3 linked regions of the Homo sapiens genome follow. The protein of the gene in region 1 purifies or fractionates together with the protein of each later gene. This does not show direct contact. Each region holds a gene or a part of one and is shown in the gene's direction. Other genes may lie near its edges. The genes, in order: REG4, SIRT3 and PITRM1.

Region 1 (3,655 bases):
AGTTCTTCCCTTCTGTCTGTTTCCCTGAATCCTGTCCCCAGAATGTGGTGGCCTGAAGCTCAGCGCAGGCTGCACACACTCGCGTGAGCCTTCTCCTTTCTCTGGCCTGCTTTCATTCTTTGTCTTTATGCTCATGAGTTAGACTTTTCAGCATTCATACTGGTGACATCTTGGGCTGGATACTTCTTGGTTGTGGGGGCTATCCTGTACATTGCAGGAGGTTGAGCGGCATCCCTGGTCTCTAATCAGTAGGTGCCAGTAGCACTCCTCCTCCCAGGTCGTGACAATCAAAAATATCTCCAGGCATAGCCAAGTGTTTCCTGTGGGGGGCAAATTCACCCCCTGGTGAGAACCATGATTAATAAGCGGTGTAGAAAACTTCAGCTGTACAAGATCACAGAATATTAAAGAATACTCAGTGCCAAAGGTCGTATACTTGAGAATATCCCAGTGGGTCTAATAGGCCATCATAGTGACACCAGGACCCCCTGCCAGCCAAGAAGTCGGCCTGGAGCAGGCCTGGGCTGAGGTCTCAGCTATTGGGCTGGGGTAGGGAGGGACTTGGTCATCCCCAGCAGGACATGGGGGCAGTTTACTGTTGTCAGAGGAATAAACTTATAAGAAGGAAAGAGAGAGTGAGAAAACTTTCTAACAGCATGAGGCAAAGGGCAGGCATGAGGAGACACACTCTGAGGAAAGCCCTCAGAGATAAACAGCCATAGAGGGGATTTTCACAGACCAGTGAGAGCACAGCTGCTGCTGTTCAAGGCAGAAGTTGGCTCAAATGGAAAAAACACAACCAAAACCAATAGGTAGAGGCTATCAACAAGTGGATTTTTACTCCAATCAAGGAAAAAATTTTAAACAGTTAGCACTGCTCAAACACATAATGAGCTACCCCAGGAAGTAGTGAGAAACCTTATAACCAGAGTTAACCAAGCAAAAGGTGGACATTGTAGTTGTTATTGCAGTTGACGCATTAAGTGTTAGAAGCGAGGCTCCATGGCACAAAAGAATCAAATGAGGAACATTGTAAAAATACCAATATCAGGGATTCGTTTTCAGACCTGCAGCATCAGAATTTCTGGGACTGGAGGCCAGACCTGCTTTGGGAGCAGTAGACCAGATGCCTCCCTAAGTCCCTCACATTCCCCAGATTCTGACATTCCCATTGGACAAAGTCCTCAAACGAAAGTCCTTTCCCTGTGAGTCGATGATCACATCAGCAAAATTCAGTAGCGAAGTTGCCTCTGTTGTGTGGATGGGAACCAGAAGCCTGAAGCTCTCTGAGAACAGCACGTCTTTGGGTTCCTTTCCTTTCCCATGGTTACTTACCCAGCTCGTGGCTGTCAGAACACAGGCTCTCAAGGCAGAAAAGCACAAGGAATGAAGCAAGGATTTGAGAGAAACTGGTGGAAGGTAGAATTTAAAAGCCCATCCCCCTCAGCCACATCAGTACAATGGATTTTGCTCCCCACTCAGTTTCTATTTTTTTTAATTCAAAATGTATATTAATGCCCCAATATACAGCCACACACACATTCTTGTTCTCTCTTTGTGACAGGGCTGTTCCTTTTTTATAACTCTTTAGAAAGAATTCCAGAGCATTTTATTTTGTGTGTCCCTCTCTCACCCTTTCTGACTCTCCCCTTTACATCAAAATGTGTTTTGTGACTCTGGAAAATTGCAGCTTGCAATGTTTCCTGATGTTTTGCTGGTCCACTTTGAGACATTTAATAATGATAACTTGGGTTTTGCAGTTGGAAAAGAAATTTCATATTCAGTATACGTTGAGGTCAAGAGCATGGGTTCTGCATTCTGAATGCCCAGGGTAGAATTCCAGCTCCTCCTAGCTGAGCTGTGTGACCCTGTGCAGATCTCTGACTTCTCTGTGCCTCAAATGCCTCCTTATAAAAAGGAGGAAATAATCGCCCTAATCATCTGAATACATGTGGCATGCTTATCACGTGCAAGCTAGGCTAATGGCTCCGTGGCCTGGAGAAAAGGGAAAGTAAGGTTTCTCAGTCACCCTTCCCTGCACTCCGCCTCTGATGAGGTGGGAAAAGCAGACCTCTTGCTTAGTGCCTATAGTGAGCTGGGCTGTGCTTGATTGTTTGAAGCTGCTATTCTAGCTTATCCACAGGCTCAATGGGCAGCAACCTCAAAAGGACCTGCTGATGAGACAGTCAGTCTCAAGCCTGGCCCATGGCCTTGTGCCGTATTCTCTTTGCCCCACACTGTGAAAGTACCCACAAGCTTGCAGGCCCTGTTTCATTTATACTCTGTGGCTCCTGCGCTGAGCACTATGGATGCAGGCATGGGCAGGCCCCATCCTCTGTGGCTCCTGAGAACCAGGAGTGGGAGGGGCACACCTCACCCCCTCCTCTCCCCAGGGTTCTCACCCACCCACACGCACTGGGAACAGGGCCAGATCTGCAGGTCAGGGCCCAAGCAGACACCTAGCCAGGGAACAACTCCTCGCTCTGCTGCAGACACCCATGGAAGACAAGTGATGCTGTGGAGCTTGGCTTCTGGGAGGGAAATAGTTGGATCTCACCTCAAAAATACTTCAGTCCTTCAAAAGGCCACCTCCGCCTTGGGCTCTCTCCTTTTTCATAAGCAGATGGCCTGTTGGGATGTGAATGGCTTTAGCAGCTTTCAGTTCTTTGAACTTTGAACAGGAGCTTCTTAGAGCCTCAGCTGTGGGCTTGAGGACAGGCCACACTCAGATCCTCACTGCATCCTGCCTCAACACAAGAGCCCCTCATTCTCAGTTGATTCATGTCAACCCCTGCCTTTCCTCAAAAGCAGTGCTGGAGTGGAGCTTTTGCCATGGTGTGTGACATTTCAAGTGTTTTTCTTTCATTGGGAAAGTTGGTATCTGTATTACGGTTCTCCAGGGAAACAGAAGTAGTTGGATGTATATATAGAGAGACAGAGATTTACTTTGAGGAATTGGCTCATGCAATTGTGGGGGCTGTGAAGTCTCAAAACCGCAGGACAGGCCAGCAGCCTGGAAATTCTTGCAGGACTTAATGTTGTTGTCTTGAGTCCAAAGACGGTCTGGAGGCAGAATTTCTTCCTCTTTGGGAGACAGGTCTTTTCTCTTAAGGCCTTCAATTGATTGGAGGAGGCCCACACACATGATGGAGGGCCATCTGCTTTACTCAAAGTCTACTGATTGTTAAACGTTAATCACAGCTAAAAAACACCTTCGCAGCAATCAAACAACTGTACATCATAGTCTAGCTAAGTTGACACATAAAGTCAACCATCATATTGCCTTATCTATGCTTCCAAGAAAAACACCCAGATAACTCTGGCAAGCTCAGTATAGTACTGAATGGATTTAAATATCTGTTTATTTTCTTACAGACTTTTTAACTTGGAGCAGCAACGAATGCAACAAGCGCCAACACTTCCTGTGCAAGTACCGACCATAGAGCAAGAATCAAGATTCTGCTAACTCCTGCACAGCCCCGTCCTCTTCCTTTCTGCTAGCCTGGCTAAATCTGCTCATTATTTCAGAGGGGAAACCTAGCAAACTAAGAGTGATAAGGGCCCTACTACACTGGCTTTTTTAGGCTTAGAGACAGAAACTTTAGCATTGGCCCAGTAGTGGCTTCTAGCTCTAAATGTTTGCCCCGCCATCCCT
Region 2 (3,655 bases), on another chromosome or scaffold:
AAGTGTTGTTGGAAGTGGAGGCAGCAGTGACAAGGGGAAGCTTTCCCTGCAGGATGTAGCTGAGCTGATTCGGGCCAGAGCCTGCCAGAGGGTGGTGGTCATGGTGGGGGCCGGCATCAGCACACCCAGTGGCATTCCAGACTTCAGGTACTGCCCACAGTCCCACCTGCCTTCTGCGCTCCCCTCCCCTGACTCCTGCCCTCCCCACTGCCCAGTTTATTCCACTTCCCTGTCCTCTTCCAAAGGCCTCAGAGCCTTTCTTCTCTCCCTGCAGATCGCCGGGGAGTGGCCTGTACAGCAACCTCCAGCAGTACGATCTCCCGTACCCCGAGGCCATTTTTGAACTCCCATTCTTCTTTCACAACCCCAAGCCCTTTTTCACTTTGGCCAAGGAGCTGTACCCTGGAAACTACAAGCCCAACGTCACTCACTACTTTCTCCGGCTGCTTCATGACAAGGGGCTGCTTCTGCGGCTCTACACGCAGAACATCGATGGGCTTGAGAGAGGTGAGCCCTCTGTGAGTCGCACACATTCTTTTTCTCCCACGGAGGCTCGGGTGCCTGTTTCTCCCAGGGAGGCTCGGGTGCCTGTTTCTCACAGGGGATGCTCGGGTGCCTGTTTCTGGGGACGGCCAAAACCTATCGCTTATGCTTCTTCCTTGGGACTTTTTTTGAGCCAACTAGTTAGGGCTTTGTTCCCAAGGAAAATGTCCTCTGGGTGTTTAAAGGCCACTGCTTGTTCTCCTGCATACCTGCAGAGCTGTGTATTTTGGGCAGAAGTTGACATTGTTTTGCCAATCTGGTGTGATGATCTCTTTTTTTCTTCTCTCTTTTAAGAAGTGTATTATGGAATTTTTTTGAGCACACACAAAGAGAGCAATGTAACGAACCGTCCTGTCCTCATCACCAGCACACAGCCAGTTCTTCCTGCGTCCTCACCACCTTCTTCCAAATCCCCAGATTATTTTGAAGCAAATCTCTCACATCATGAATTTAATCTAGAAATAATCTATAAACACATGAATGGATAGCTCTAGAGAATACTTTAAAAACAACTCCGGCCGGGTGCCGGATTACAGGTGTGGGATCACACCTGTAATCCCAGCATTTTGGGAGGCCGAGGCAGGTAGATCACCTGAGGTCGGGAGTTCGAGACCAGCCTGGCCAACGTGGCAAAACCCCGTCTCTACTAAAAATACAAAAAATTAGCCAGGCGTGGTGGTGTGTGCCTGTAATCCCAGGTACTCGGGAGGCTGAGACAGGAGAATCTCTTGAACCCAGCAGGCGGAGGTTGCAGTGAGCCGAGATCGTGCCACTTCACTCCAGCCTGGGCGACAGAGGGAGATTCTGTCTCAAAAAAATAAATAAAAATAAAAATAATTAAAAAATAAAAACAACTCTGATAGTGATTCACACTGAAGAATCACTAGTAATTCCTTAATATGGTCACACTTAGTCTGTGGTGATTTCTTGACCGTATCCATATGGTGCCCAAACCAGCGATTCACAGGTTGTGCCAACTTCTGGCCGTGCACCTAACGGAAGCACTTGGTGGGGCCTTTTCCTTACGTGCAGTGATGCAGACAGGTGCTGGGACAGTCAGCTCTCCGGGAGCCAGGCTCCCGGAGAGACTGCTGATGTGTTGTCAGTTAAAAAGAGGTGGCACCTTGGCTCCAGGAATGTGTTTCCTTGCCAGAAGGATCCCCTGACTTGGAACCACAGAGGCAGCAGCGGATGCCCCATGTTGGTGGGCTCTTCTCCCAGAGGTGCAGCAGGGCAGGCCTTGTGGGAAGGTGGGAGCTCCTGGCTGTGAGATTCAGCACTGCTGAGTTAGGGCAGCGACAGGGACTTGGGAAGCCTCCTGCAGCTGGGACCCTGGCTGTGCCACCGCAGCCTTTCAGAACCAGTTAATACTAACACAACTTTCATAAGAAGTCACTTTTTGTCTGTTTCTACCAAGCAATTCTTTTGGAATTTATGATATTTATATCCTCATTTTAACTTGGTATCTGTAGAATAGAAGATATGTTCCTGGATATTAGATATAAATTTTTGAGACAGGGTCTTGGCTCTGTTGCCCAGGCTAGAGTGCAGTGGCATGATCATAGCTCACTATAGCCTGAACTCTTGGGCCGAAGTGATCCTTTTGCCTCAGCCTCTGGAATAGCTGGGACTACGGGCATGCACTACCATGCCTGGCTAATTAAAAAAATTTTTTAAGACAAGTCTCACTATGTTGCTGAGGCTGGTCTCAAACTCCTGGCCTCAAGTGATCCTCCTGCCTTGGCCTTCCAAAGCACTGGGATTACAGGCATGAGCCACTGCACCCAGCCTGGTATTAGGTGTAATTTTTTTTTTTTTTTTTGAGACAGAATCTCGCTCTCTTACCCAAACTGGAGTGCGGTGGCACGACCTCAGCTCACTGCAACTTCCACCTCCCGGGTTCAAGCGATTCTCCTGTCTCAGCCTCCCCGAGTAGCTGGCACTACAGGTGCCTGCCACCACATCTGGCTAATTTTTGTATTTTTAGTAGAGGTACGGTTTCACCATGATGGCCAGGCCGGTCTTGAACTCCTAGCCTCAAATGATCTGCCCACCTCGGCCTCCCAAAGTGCTGGGATTACAGGTGTGGGCCACTGTGCCCGGCTGGATATAATTTTATTTGAGCTTTTATCAAATGGTTTTTCGTACTGAGTTTTGACAGGCTTTGTTTTAACCGTGATTTGGCTCCAGCTAGGTGCCCCTTTGCTCCCCTGCCTTATTCTGGTTGATGGCGCATGTAGGTGATACGGGCATGAAAACCAGGCTTGAGGACATCACAACCCCAAGGGGCTGTGCCTCCTTCCAGGAGTCCTGCCAAGCCCAGAAGTTGTGCTCTTGGCCTTGCGTGCTCATCTCGGAGGCGGCAGCAACACTTCGCTTTGGCTTGAATTTCAGTGTCGGGCATCCCTGCCTCAAAGCTGGTTGAAGCTCATGGAACCTTTGCCTCTGCCACCTGCACAGTCTGCCAAAGACCCTTCCCAGGGGAGGACATTCGGGTGAGTTATCCTGCTGTTGGTTGTCCTTCTGCAGTTTGCTGTTGGGGTGATCTGGAAAAGTGGTATTTTATAAGCATTGTCTCGAAAGGACAGTTGAACAATAATAGTGTGAAACATTTTATTTGTAAATTAGAAAATCAATACATGCTTGTAAAAAAATTTAAGACAATATAGAAATATGTAGGGAAAATGAATCTCCCTTCAGCCAATTCCAGCTGCCCACTTTTTTTTTTTTTTTTTGAGATTGAGTCTCACTCTGTCGCCCAGGCTGGAGTGCAGTGGGCGATCTCGGCTCACTGCAACCTCCGTCTCCCGGATTCAAGGAATTCTTCTGCCTCAGCCTCCTAAGTAGCTGGGATTACAGGCGTGAGCCACCACGCCCGGCAATCAGATGGCCTTTTGTGCCGAGCTTATTTCCTGAAAATGTTTCTCGCTCCTTCGCCTTGTAGCTTGTGTTAGTATTTCATCCTGTTTCATGGCTAAATGTTCCACTGATGTATGCACCACAGTTGGTTTGTTTGTACATGGATGGGTGTTTGGGTTGTCCCACCTTTCTGCTCTTGTGTATAGTTCTGCTGTGGAGCATATGCAAGTATTCGTTTGAGAGTCCTTGTTTT
Region 3 (2,432 bases), on another chromosome or scaffold:
ACACGCCCACTCCTTCCTTGATTTCCCACCTGGCCTATTTGACTCCCTTCATCCACTTTAGGAAAAGGCCTGTCTGTGGAAGCGGCGACCTGGGGCTGATCTCACCACGGGCGTCTTCAAGGAGCCTGTGTCTGTGCTGCAGACCCTCCCATCATTGTCTGCCCCGCCTTCTGTCGGAGGTGGATGTGTTCTAGAATCAGCTTGAATGTGATGTTACCGTTCACAGTGGAAGGCAGAGGAAATTGGCCCTGTTCCTAGAAATGTGCTTTATCAGAGAGTGTGTGTTTTCTTAAGGGATTCTTATAAAACTCACTTCAGTTTCCTTTCTTTCCATATTCTGATGTGAGACATTTAAATAAATGTTCATTTGCTCATTTGCCTTTATAATAGAAATAACCTCTTTCTACTTCACGAGATTTTAAAAATGCCACATGTGCATTGGAACAAGTTAAGCAGTGTGGTGCTGGAAGTGTTAAGATTCCCTCCCCACCACCTCTCCCTTCAACCCTGTAATCTAAGCCAACTGTTTGAAAATTGTGCTTCCTTGTGCTTTTTAGTTTTGGTTAATTGAAAAGAAAATCTCATGCCTGTAAGCTCAGCACTTTGAAGGCAGGAGGATCACTTGAAGCCAGGTGTTTGAGACCAGCCTGGGCAACAAAGCTAGACCCTGCCTCTACAAAAACTGTAAAAATAGTCAGGCGTGGTGGCACACACCTGTAGGCCCAGCTACTCAGGAGGCTGTTGTGGGAGGATCCCTTGAGCCCAGGAGTTCAAAGCTGCAGTGAGCTGTGATTGCACTAATGCACTCCAGCCTGGCGACAGAGCGAGACCCCATCTCTTAAAAAACAAGACCAAAATATGGGACCATAATTTATGCAGCATTATTTTACAACTCGATTTTCATTTTCACTTAATCCAACAATTACTTCATTGTCTATGCTTTTTTATCAGCCACGGTATTAACTTGCATTTTTTAATCATTTCAGTCTTAAAATCCTTGCACGTTTGATGACTGCCAAATTCTTGCATACAGAAATTCGAGAAAAAGGCGGTGCTTATGGTGGAGGCGCAAAACTCAGCCACAATGGGATTTTCACCCTTTACTCTTACAGGTGAGTTTTGCTCTAGTTCACACATTGGGATGCACACGTCGTTTTAGTCTTCTACTCATGATTATCAGTGTCATTTTCTTCTACTGCAGTGAATTTTAGACAAAAGTTGTTCTGTGTGCTTCTTTTCACTCCTTGGGCACTTAGCCACACCCAGCAATGTCCTTTCTGGCGCGAGGATTAGGGCCAGCAGCCGAAACAGGAAGCATTCTGCCTTCAGTAAACCCTGGCTTCAGCCAGCATATTTTGGCAGAACACGGTAGTGCCTCCATCCGTGGGTTTGCCTTCCATGGTTTATTACCCACAGTCCCCCTCGGTCTGAAAATATTAAATGGAAAATTCCAGACATAAACACTTCCTAAGTTTTAAATTGTACACCATTCTTCTAAGCAGTGGGATGAAAGCTGACGCTGTCTACGGTACCTGCCTGTTGGTCACCCAGTAGCCGTCTAGGTATCAGATACGCTGTGGGTATCCAAGAGCTTCTGTTCACAGAACCCTTGTTTTACTTAATAGTAGCCCATCAGCGTAACTTTTATTACAGTATAATTGTTGTATTTTGTTAATATCTTGCTGCACCTAATCTATAAACTTTATCATAGGTATAGGAAAAAAACATAGTATCCATAGTGGCTGTCTGAGGTTGCAGCCCTGCCGTGGGGGTCCTGAAACACAGGCCCCAGGTGAGGGGGCTGATACAGCCTGAGAGCGTTCTTAGCTCATTTCAGTTGGAGGTGCCTGATGTGGATGCAGTTCTGTTAGCTTTCATAAACATAACACCGTTACTGTAAAGCAATATTCTTGATTTTCTATGGCTTTGCTGCCTAAGAGAACATGTATTCCAACAGTTTTTAAGAAGGAGCCAGCCGGCCGCAGTGGCAAGTGCCTGTGGTCCTAGCTACAGGAGGCTAAGGCGGGAGGATCCCTTGAGCCTGGGGAGGTTGAAACTGCAGTGAGCAGATTGCGCCACTGCACACCAGCCTGGGCGACAGTGAGACCCTGTCCCGTGGATGCATAGCTAGATTAGGTAGGTAGGCAGGCATGTAGGTAGATACGTAGGTAGCCATTGCCACTCTGATGAGTTCTCCCCCTTGCTGTGCTGGAAGCCATGCTTCTAGACAAGGATGGGGAAGCAGCTCACAGCCGCCCCTCTGCAGCTCAGGGTGAAGGGAGGGCTGGGCTCTTTGCATTTACACGAAGGGAAGTCTGGATTGGCCCCCTCAGGCTGATTCCTGTACTACCCTGGGTGTGTCTTCAGGGAGATGAAAGGAAAACCTTTGTTTGCTTAATTTTTCCATGTAAGTCTTTGTAATTTCCCTGTAA

The links.
Region 2: the proteins of REG4 (region 1) and SIRT3 purify together in Homo sapiens (affinity purification with mass spectrometry; 2 studies listed by BioGRID and IntAct, with this or other methods). This does not show direct contact.
Region 3: the proteins of REG4 (region 1) and PITRM1 purify together in Homo sapiens (affinity purification with mass spectrometry; one large-scale study listed by BioGRID and IntAct). This does not show direct contact.

What each region holds. Positions count from the first base shown.
Region 1 is NC_000001.11:119,794,406-119,798,060, reverse strand, and holds part of REG4 (regenerating islet-derived protein 4 isoform 1 precursor), read left to right. Parts: intron 1-3,375; coding exon 3,376-3,443; 3' UTR 3,444-3,655. UniProt on the Homo sapiens protein: Calcium-independent lectin displaying mannose-binding specificity and able to maintain carbohydrate recognition activity in an acidic environment. May be involved in inflammatory and metaplastic responses of the gastrointestinal epithelium.
Region 2 is NC_000011.10:229,835-233,489, reverse strand, and holds part of SIRT3 (NAD-dependent protein deacetylase sirtuin-3, mitochondrial), read left to right. Parts: coding exon 1-147; intron 148-274; coding exon 275-507; intron 508-2,783; exon of another isoform or gene 2,784-2,937; coding exon 2,938-3,038; intron 3,039-3,655.
Region 3 is NC_000010.11:3,139,367-3,141,798, reverse strand, and holds part of PITRM1 (presequence protease, mitochondrial isoform 2 precursor), read left to right. Parts: intron 1-29; exon of another isoform or gene 30-198; intron 199-986; coding exon 987-1,112; intron 1,113-2,432. UniProt on the Homo sapiens protein: Metalloendopeptidase of the mitochondrial matrix that functions in peptide cleavage and degradation rather than in protein processing. Has an ATP-independent activity. Specifically cleaves peptides in the range of 5 to 65 residues.